Regions from separate parts of the Homo sapiens genome. Here regions 2 and 3 are each linked to region 1. Evidence: fine-mapped expression QTL. A gene starts in region 1. Each other region holds a variant in brackets. All regions are shown on one strand. Distances are between the middles of the regions.

What was found. PIP is the estimated chance that this variant, and not a neighbour inherited with it, causes the effect. A credible set is the group of variants that fine-mapping cannot tell apart.
Region 2: its variant is the best candidate, but not a certain one, in a credible set for the expression of ZRANB3 in lymphoblastoid cells (GEUVADIS, PIP 0.80).
Region 3: its variant is the best candidate, but not a certain one, in a credible set for the expression of ZRANB3 in neural progenitor cells (Aygun 2021, PIP 0.65).

Annotation. Positions count from the first base shown.
Region 1 is chr2:135,529,741-135,532,499 of GRCh38, reverse strand. It overlaps ZRANB3 (zinc finger RANBP2-type containing 3), which reads left to right and starts at 1,282. Exons shown (of 21, transcript NM_032143.4): 1 at 1,282-1,373. It overlaps R3HDM1 (R3H domain containing 1), which reads right to left and starts at 1,016. Exons shown (of 27, transcript NM_001378107.1): 1 at 867-1,016. RefSeq lists a silencer at 850-1,039 and enhancers at 1,007-1,301, 1,270-1,539, 1,890-1,969.
Region 2 is chr2:135,444,467-135,447,225 of GRCh38, reverse strand. All of the region lies in intron 2 of ZRANB3 (zinc finger RANBP2-type containing 3), which reads left to right. Among named protein-coding and RNA genes, the nearest start is that of ZRANB3, 85 kb to the left of the region's middle. The variant G/TG (reference allele first, on the strand shown) is at 1,020.
Region 3 is chr2:135,233,225-135,235,983 of GRCh38, reverse strand. The region is part of intron 12 of ZRANB3 (zinc finger RANBP2-type containing 3); the gene reads left to right. Among named protein-coding and RNA genes, the nearest start is that of SNORA40B, 98 kb to the right of the region's middle. The variant C/G (reference allele first, on the strand shown) is at 1,397.

The DNA.
Region 1 (2,759 bases):
CTTCACCTTTTACTTAACTATCCCAGGACAATTACACACGGAGCATGATAGTCCCAATAATTTAAGTTTCTTTATAAAAACAAGCTCAACAGAGTCACCCTTTGCACCTAGTCACAGCAACAAAAGAAAACAAAACACCAAAAAACTTCAAAGCCCACAAAGATTTGTTGGCAGCCTAAGGCTCAGGAATCAAAACGTGTGTAAATCTGATCCCGGGGGACCGTGGCACTGACAGTCATTCAACTTTCTTTTTAATATTCCCATTGTGCTTTTTCTGGTACCACAGGGAAAATGTACCTACATTTTACCAACCGGTCGAAGCTGAAAATTCTCTTGGTGCAAGGCCAGGGGATGCGGCCGTGGGGCGGCCGGGGGAGCCCGGGGCACCGGCGCCAGCCACACGAGAGAGCAGTACCACGCTCTTGGCAGGCCTGCTGTGGCTGGCTCCCGAGTCCCTGGGGCTGCAAGAGCAGCCGCGGAGGCAGCAGCAGCAGCCATGGCAGGGACTCGGAAACCTTTCCCCTGCCTCCTCCGCTAGGCCTCGAGGGGTTTGCTTTTCACATGGCCCCCGGGTGGGGGCGGTGGGCACAAGGCAGTGGCTGCAGCTGCAGCCGGAGCCGCAGCCGCGGGCCAGGCGAGCCTGGCTCACTCGGAACCCGACCTAACGGCGGGCTGGCAGCAGCGGGACGTCAGAAGGCCCTGGCTGAAGCGCCGACGACCCGGCGGGGAAGGCCACCTTTCCACACACCACATCTCTCCCCTGCCTGCCTCCTTCTCCGTTAGCGCTACCGGTTGGCGGGCGGGGGAGGGGAGCAAGGCGCGTTATTCCCGGGGAGCTGGACGGGGGAGGGAAGGGCATCTCTTACCCGCGTTACTGAGGAGGAGGAGGCGGTTGGAGCGCGGCGCGGCGGGGCGACGGCGGGGCTGGGTGGGTGCAAGTAAGAGTCTTACGAAAGGGAATTAACCCCATCACCAGCCCGGACACCGGCTCCAGCGGCAGCCGCGGCTGGCAGAATCCCGCCCCTTCCCACCACGCACTAGCCCCGCCTCTTCGTTCTCTTTGAGCGGCAGCCGACTATTCATAGGTTGTACGTCCCCGGAGTGACATGAGTTTTGCCCAATCAAGCTTGAAAAAAACTGTCTTCTCTCCACCCCTTTACCTCCTCCCAGGCCGCGGAGAGCCGTGCCAAATCTTCCTCCAACCTCAAGAGAAAAAGAACCAATCCGTGGTAAGTAACCGCCCTTGAAGGACGCAAAAGCCAACCAATGGTAAAACTAGGAGGACAGCCATTTTGCCCACTTGTAAAAGAGCTACCTTTTCCCACGAGTTGGAGCCTGAGGTGCGGAGTTTCGTGAGTTTTTACTGACTCGAGGTATTTAAAAGACAACCAGATCTCCTCAGTGGGTATTTATAGTGCTTTTTAGGGGTAAAGGAAAATTATCCTCCATGTGGGGCGAAGTGAGGCATGCTGCTTAAGGGGTTGGCTCCTCCCCTTAGCGCTAACGGGTTCTGAAACGAACACCTGGTTTCTCCAGCTTCAGTGGCGGAGGGCGGGGTGATTGCTCTTTTCGGCCTGGAGCGGACTACGATTCCCAACATGCTTTTCCCCTACTCATAACTTCTCCTCCGTTCACTTGTCGCGGTGCTTGGCTGGAATTGTAGTTCCTGAGAGGTACCCATGCCGCCGCTTCAGCCAATGAAAAGGGACAGAGTTTTGAATGACTTGAAATTAGGGCGGAGAACGAGTTGTCGCGAGGCTGTACAGAGCCCTTTTCGCAACCCTAACGGGAGAGAAGTGATGGAAGAAGGGTAGCCGGAAGAGTTTCCTCAAAATACCATAGGGGTTTTAAATTATTAGTACGTATTTAAACTCATCTACTTTCACGTTGTCCCGTTGAACGTCACTTCCGCTTAGGGGCGGACACGTCCCAAACCTGTGGCGGGAGTTGGAGATTCTGCGGCGAATACGCCAGGTGTGACTGGCTGGAAGTGGCGTGGCTGGCAAGTCGCTAGTTTCTTGCATGGGAGATAAAAAGTTGAACGGAATTTAATGGCATTTTAAGAAAGAGTGGGTGACATGGGATGGGGGTAATTTCCAGGGCCCTTATTACTTTCTCCACCCCGGCCTTCAATCGCGGGCGTCTCGGCCTGCTCGCTATTAGATTGCACGGCTAAATTTGTAGAAAGTACCTCTACTGCCTTTAGTCTTCGCGTGGTCAGTTTGAACTGTAAAGACAGGGCTCCGAAGTTCTGAACTACATTTACAGACACACTTTTTTTTTTTTTTTTTGAGACGGAGTCTTGCTCTGTCCCCAGGCTGGAGTGCAGTGGTGGGATCTTGGCTCACTGATTCACGCCATTCTCCTGTCTCAGCCTCCGGAGTAGCTGGGATTACAGGCGCGCGCCACTCAGCCCAGCTAATTTTTTGTATTTTTAGTAGAGACGGGGTTTCACCATGTTGGCCAGGATGGTCTCGATCTCCTGACCTCGTGATCCGCCCACCTTGGCCTCCCAAAGTGCTGGGATTACAGGCGTGAGCCACCGCGCCCGGCCACAAACACACTTCTAAAGTCAGCTTGGAAGGAAAAGAGTCACAGAAAAGGGCTTTTCTGTTTGAAGGATTGATAATCAAGAGTGGCCCCATCACCACTCTTTGAGTAACGACCATTTATTAAACGAGTGGCAGACAGGCGCGGTGGCTCAGACCTGTAATCCTAGCACTTTGGGAGGCCGAGGCGGGAGGATTACTTGAGGTCAG
Region 2 (2,759 bases), 85 kb after region 1:
CTCTACTAAAAATACAAAAATTAGCTAGGTTTGGTGGCGCGCCTGTAATCCTAGCTAGGAGGATGAGGCAGGAGAATCATTTGAACCCGGGAGGTGGAGGTTGCAGTGAGCTGAGATTGTGCCACTGCACTCCAGCCTGGGTGACAGACAGAGCGAGAGTCTCTCAAAAAATAAATAAAATAAAATAAAAAGGGTTGAAACAAGGAACCTAAAAAGACAGAAAAATAGAGGAAAGAAAATTAAACAGAACAACCCAAGAGGTTAAACACATAGCTAAGAGATACTTCATAAAGAGAAAATAAAATAGGAAAATTAAACATTAAATTGAAGGAATTATCAAATAAATTTCATAAGGAAAATTTTCACGTCTTATTTTTCCAGCTCACACCTTTTCTACTCCAGTTCCAACAATTAGTCAAAACACTACCAGGACCTACAATCTATTGATCCTTCCAAACGCTACACCTTTGCACAGTCTCTCACTCTCCTGATAGCCTCTTTTCTTCATACCTAGATTAAATTCCATGGTTAATCATTCTAATACTTTCCTCAAATACACTCTCAAATTTCTTGCTCCTTCTTATTTTCTGTCCTCATGTGGCTAGGACAGTTCTGGTTAAATCCGACTTTTCATCAAGCTTGTTCCTGTATGCCCGTACTTCTAATGGTGGTTGGAGAAAAACCTGCCAATTATTCTAGCTTTAAATCCATGCTCTGGCTGGCAGTCATACTATACTGCACTATTCATTCTCTATCATTCTCCATGACAACTATTTCTTTCTTTCTCCCATGTCCTCAAATTTCTAACACCTCCTCCTGCATCTTAACACCCAGTTGATGACACTGCTTCCTCCGTTTCCAAGGAAATGAAGCTATCAGACAAGAAGTATTATAAGCTCTCTATATCTACTCATGTCTCTGCTTTTTTACCCCTGTATTTTATCGTCTCCCCTAATACCCTGGATGAACTATCCGTCTGTTGATTCTGTCATACAATTTCTTTCTTTTTTTTTTTTTTT[G/TG]AGATTGAGTTTCGCTCTTGTTGCCCAGGCTGGAGTGCAATGGCGCAATCTCAGCTCACTGCAACCTCTGCCTCCTGGGTTCAAGCGATTCTCTTGCCTCAGCCTCCCAAGTTGCTGGGATTACAGGCACTCACCACTATGCCCAGCTAAGTTTTTGTATTTTTAGTAGAGACAGGCTTTCAGCATGTTGGCCAGGCTGGTCTCGAACTCCTGACCTCATGTGATCCACCCGCCTCAGCCTCCCAAAGTGCTGGGATTACAGGTGTGAGTCACTGCACCAGGCCGTGTCATGCAATTTTTTTTGTTTTTCTTTTCTTTTTTTTTTTTTTTTGAGATGGAGTCTTGCTCTGTCACCCAGGCTAGAGTGCAGTGGCACAATCTCGACTTACTGCAACCTCTGCCTCTTGAGTTCAAGCAATTTTCCTGCCTCAGCTTCCCGTGTAGCTGGGATTACAGGCACCCGCCACTGCACCCGGCTAATTTTTGTATTTTTAGTAGAGACAGGGTTTCACCATCTTGGCCAGGCTGGTCTCGAACTCCTGACCTTGTGATCCACCCGCCTCAGCCTCCCAAAGTGCTAGGATTACAGGTGTGAGCCACTGCACCTGGCCCTTGTCATGCAGTTTCAACCATTGCCTCCTATTATGTACTCAAGAACATTGCTCTGGCAATTCTATAGATTTTCTCCCACTCAATCCATTCTCTATTGATCGTTCTTATTACCATAAAAGCACACTATTTTCCCCTTTATTTACTTATTTATTTAGATGGAGTTTCACTGTGTCACCCAGGCTGGAGTGCAGTGAGCCATCTTGGCTCACTGCAACCTCCACCTCCCGAGTTCAAGCGATTCTCCTGCCTCAGCCTCCCCATTAGCTGGAACTACAGGAGTTTGCCAACATGACCAGCTAATTTTTGTATTTTTAGTAGAGATGGGGTTTCATTATGTTGGCCAGGCTGATGTCTAACTCCTCACCTCAAGTGATCCATCTGCCTCAGCCTCCCAAAATGCTGGAATTACAGGCATGAGCCACCATGCCCGGCCTATTTTTCCCTTTAAAAACAAAGCAACCAAACCAGCCTACTCTTGACTGCATATTCTCCTCCAGTTACCACTATATTTCTTTACTTCTTTACTGCAAAATTCCATGTAATAATTATGTGTATTTGTTGCTTCCATTTTTCAGGTCCTATTGTTGTTGGGTTTTCATGCTAACCATAACACCAAAATTACACTTACGGAGGCTACTAATACTCCCCAGAGTAGCTAAATCCAGTGATCATTGCTCATTTCTTATTTTATCAAAACTATTAGCATAATTTGAGACATATGTTTTCTTCTTTTTGATTGTACCCTCCCCGCCCACGCCTACCGCTTTAATAGCTTATTGCAGTATAATCTACATATAAAAAATTAACACATAACTGTATAATTTGTGTTATAAACTATACACAGTTTGATCAGTTTTAGCATCACTAGAATTCTTTTAGAATTTCCGTTTTACCAAAAAGTTTGTGCCTCTTTGTACTCAGTCAATCCTTGTCCCCACCTCCAGACCTAGTCAACAAATGATGTTGCTTTTTTTCCTTCTTTACAGTTTACCTTTTCTATAAATTTCACGTAGTTGAAGTAATATACTGTCTAATCTTTTTTTGGGGGGTTCCTATTTTTTTCCAGTCACCAGCTCTCTGGCAAACTGTGTAATCTTTTGTGTCTGGCTTTTCTTTCCAGGTTCATCC
Region 3 (2,759 bases), 300 kb after region 1:
TTTTCCTAATTGAATGCCCTTTTTTTCCTTCTCCTGCCTCATTGCCCTGGCCAGAACTTCCAACACTATGTTGAATAGGAGTGGTGAGACAGGGCATCCCTGTCTTGTGCCAGTTTTCAAAGGGAATGCTTCCAGTTTTTGTCCATTCAGTATGATATTGGTTGTGGGTTTGTCATAGATAGCTCTTATTATTTTGAGATAAATCCCATCAATACCTAATTTATTGAGAGTGTTTAGCATGAAGGGTTGTTGAATTTTGTCAAAGGCCTTTTCTGCATCTATTGAGATAATCATGTGGTTTTTGTCTTTGGTTCTGTTTATATGCTGGATTACGTTTATTGATTTTCGTATGTTGAACCAGCCTTGCTTCCCAGGGATGAAGCCCACTTGATCATGGTGGATAAGCTTTTTGATGTGCTGCTGGATTCGGTTTGCCAGTATTTTATTGAGGATTTTTGCATCAATGTTCATCAGGGATATTGGTCTAAAATTCTCTTTTTTTGTTGTGTCTCTGCCAGGCTTTGGTATCAGGATGATGCTGGCCTCATAAAGTGAGTTAGGGAGGATTCCCTCTTTTTCTATTGATTGGAATAGTTTCAGAAGGAATGGTACCAGCTCTTCCTTGTACCTCTCGTAGAATTTGGCTGTGAATCCATCTGGTCCTGGACTTTTTTTGGTTGGTAAGCTATTAATTATTGCCTCAATTTCAGAGCCTGTTATTGGTCTATTCAGAGATTCAACTTCTTCCTGGTTCAGTCTTGGGAGGGTGTATGTGTTGAGGAATTTATCCATTTCTTCTAGATTTTCTAGTTTATTTGCATAGAGGTGTTTATAGTATTCTCTGATGGTAGTTTGTATTTCTGTGGGATCGGTGGTGATATCCCCTTTATCATTTTTTATTGCGTCTATTTGATTCTTCTCTTTTCTTCTTTATTAGTCCTGCTAGCGGTCTATCAATTTTGTTGATCTTTTCAAAAAACCAGCTCCTGGATTCATTGAATTTTTGAAGGGTTTTTTGTGTCTCTATTTCCTTCAGTTCTACTCTGATCTTAGTTATTTCTTGCCTTCTGCTGGCTTTTGAATGTGTTTGCTCTTGCTTCTCTAGTTCTTTTAATTGTGATGTTAGGGTGTCAATTTTAGATCTTTCCTGCTTTCTCTTGTGGGCATTTAGTGGTATAAATTTCCCTCTACACACTGCTTTGAATGTATCCCAGAGATTCTGGTATGTTGTGTCTTCGTTCTCATTGATTCCAAAGAACATCTTTATTTCTGCGTTCATTTCATTATGTACCCAGTAGTCATTAGGAGCAGGTTGTTCAGTTTCCATGTAGTTATGCGGTTTTGAGTGAGTTTCTTAATCCTGAGTTCTAGTTTGATTGCACTGTGGTCTGAGAGA[C/G]AGTTTGTTATAATTTCTGTTCTTTTACATTTGCTGAGGAGTGCTTTACTTCCAACTATGTGGTCAATTTTGGAATAGGTGTGGTGCTGAAAACAATGTATATTCTGTTGATTTGGGGTGGAGAGTTCTATAGATGTCTGTTAGGTCTGCTTGGTGCAGAGCTGGGTTCAGTTCCTGGATATCCTTGTTAACTTTCTGTCTCGTAGATCTGTCTAGTGTTGACAGTGGGGTGTTAAAGTCTCTGATTATTATTGTGTGGGAGACTAAGTCTCTTTGTAGGTCTCTAAGGACTTGCTTTATGAATCTGAGTGTTCCTGTATTGGGTGCGTATATATTTAGGATAGTTAGCTCTTCTTGTTGAATTGATCCCTTTACCATTATGTAATGGCCTTCTTTGTCTCTTTTGATCTTTGTTGGTTTAAAGTCTGTTTTATCCGAGACTAGGATTGCAACGCCTGCCTTTTTTTGTTTTCCATTTGCTTGGTAGATCTTCCTCCATCCCTTTATTTTGAGCCTATGCGTGTCTCTGCACATGAGATGGGTTTCCTGAATACAGCACACTGATGGGTCTTGACTCTTTATCCAATTTGCCAGTCTGTGTCTTTTAATTGGAGCATTTAGCCCATTTACATTTAAGGTTATTACTGTTATGTGTGAATTTGATCCTGTCATTATGATGTTAGCTGGTTATTTTGCTCGTTAGTTGATGCAGTTTCTTCCTAGCCTCGATGGTCTTTACAATTTGGCATGTTTTTGCAGTGGCTTGTACTGGTTGTTCCTTTCCATGTTTAGTGCTTCCTTCAGGAGCTCTTTTAGGGCAGGTCTGGTGGTGACAAAATCTCTCAGCATTTGCTTGTCTGTAAAGGATTTTATTTCTCCTTCACTTATGAAGCTTAGTTTGGCTGGATATGAAATTCTAGGTTGAAAATTCTTTTCTTTGAGAATGTTGAATATTGGCCCCCACTGTCTTCTGGCTTGTAGAGTTTCTGCCAAGAGATCCGCTGTTAGTCTGATGGGCTTCCCTTTGTGGGTAACCCGAGCTTTCTCTCTGGCTGCCCTTAACATTTTTTCCTTCATTTCAACTTTGGTGAATCTGACGATTGTATGTCTTGGAGTTGCTCTTCTCGAGGAGTATCTTTGTGGCGTTCTCTGTATTTCCTGAATTTGAATGTTGGCCTGCCTTGCCAGATTGGGGAAGTTCTCCCGGATAATATCCTGCAGAGTGTTTTCCAACTTGGTTCCATTCTCCCCATCAGTTTCAGGTACACCAATCAGATGTAGATTTGATCTTTTCACATGGTCCCATATTTCTTGGAGGCTTTGTTCATTTCTTTTTATTCTTTTTTCTCTAAATTTCTCTGCT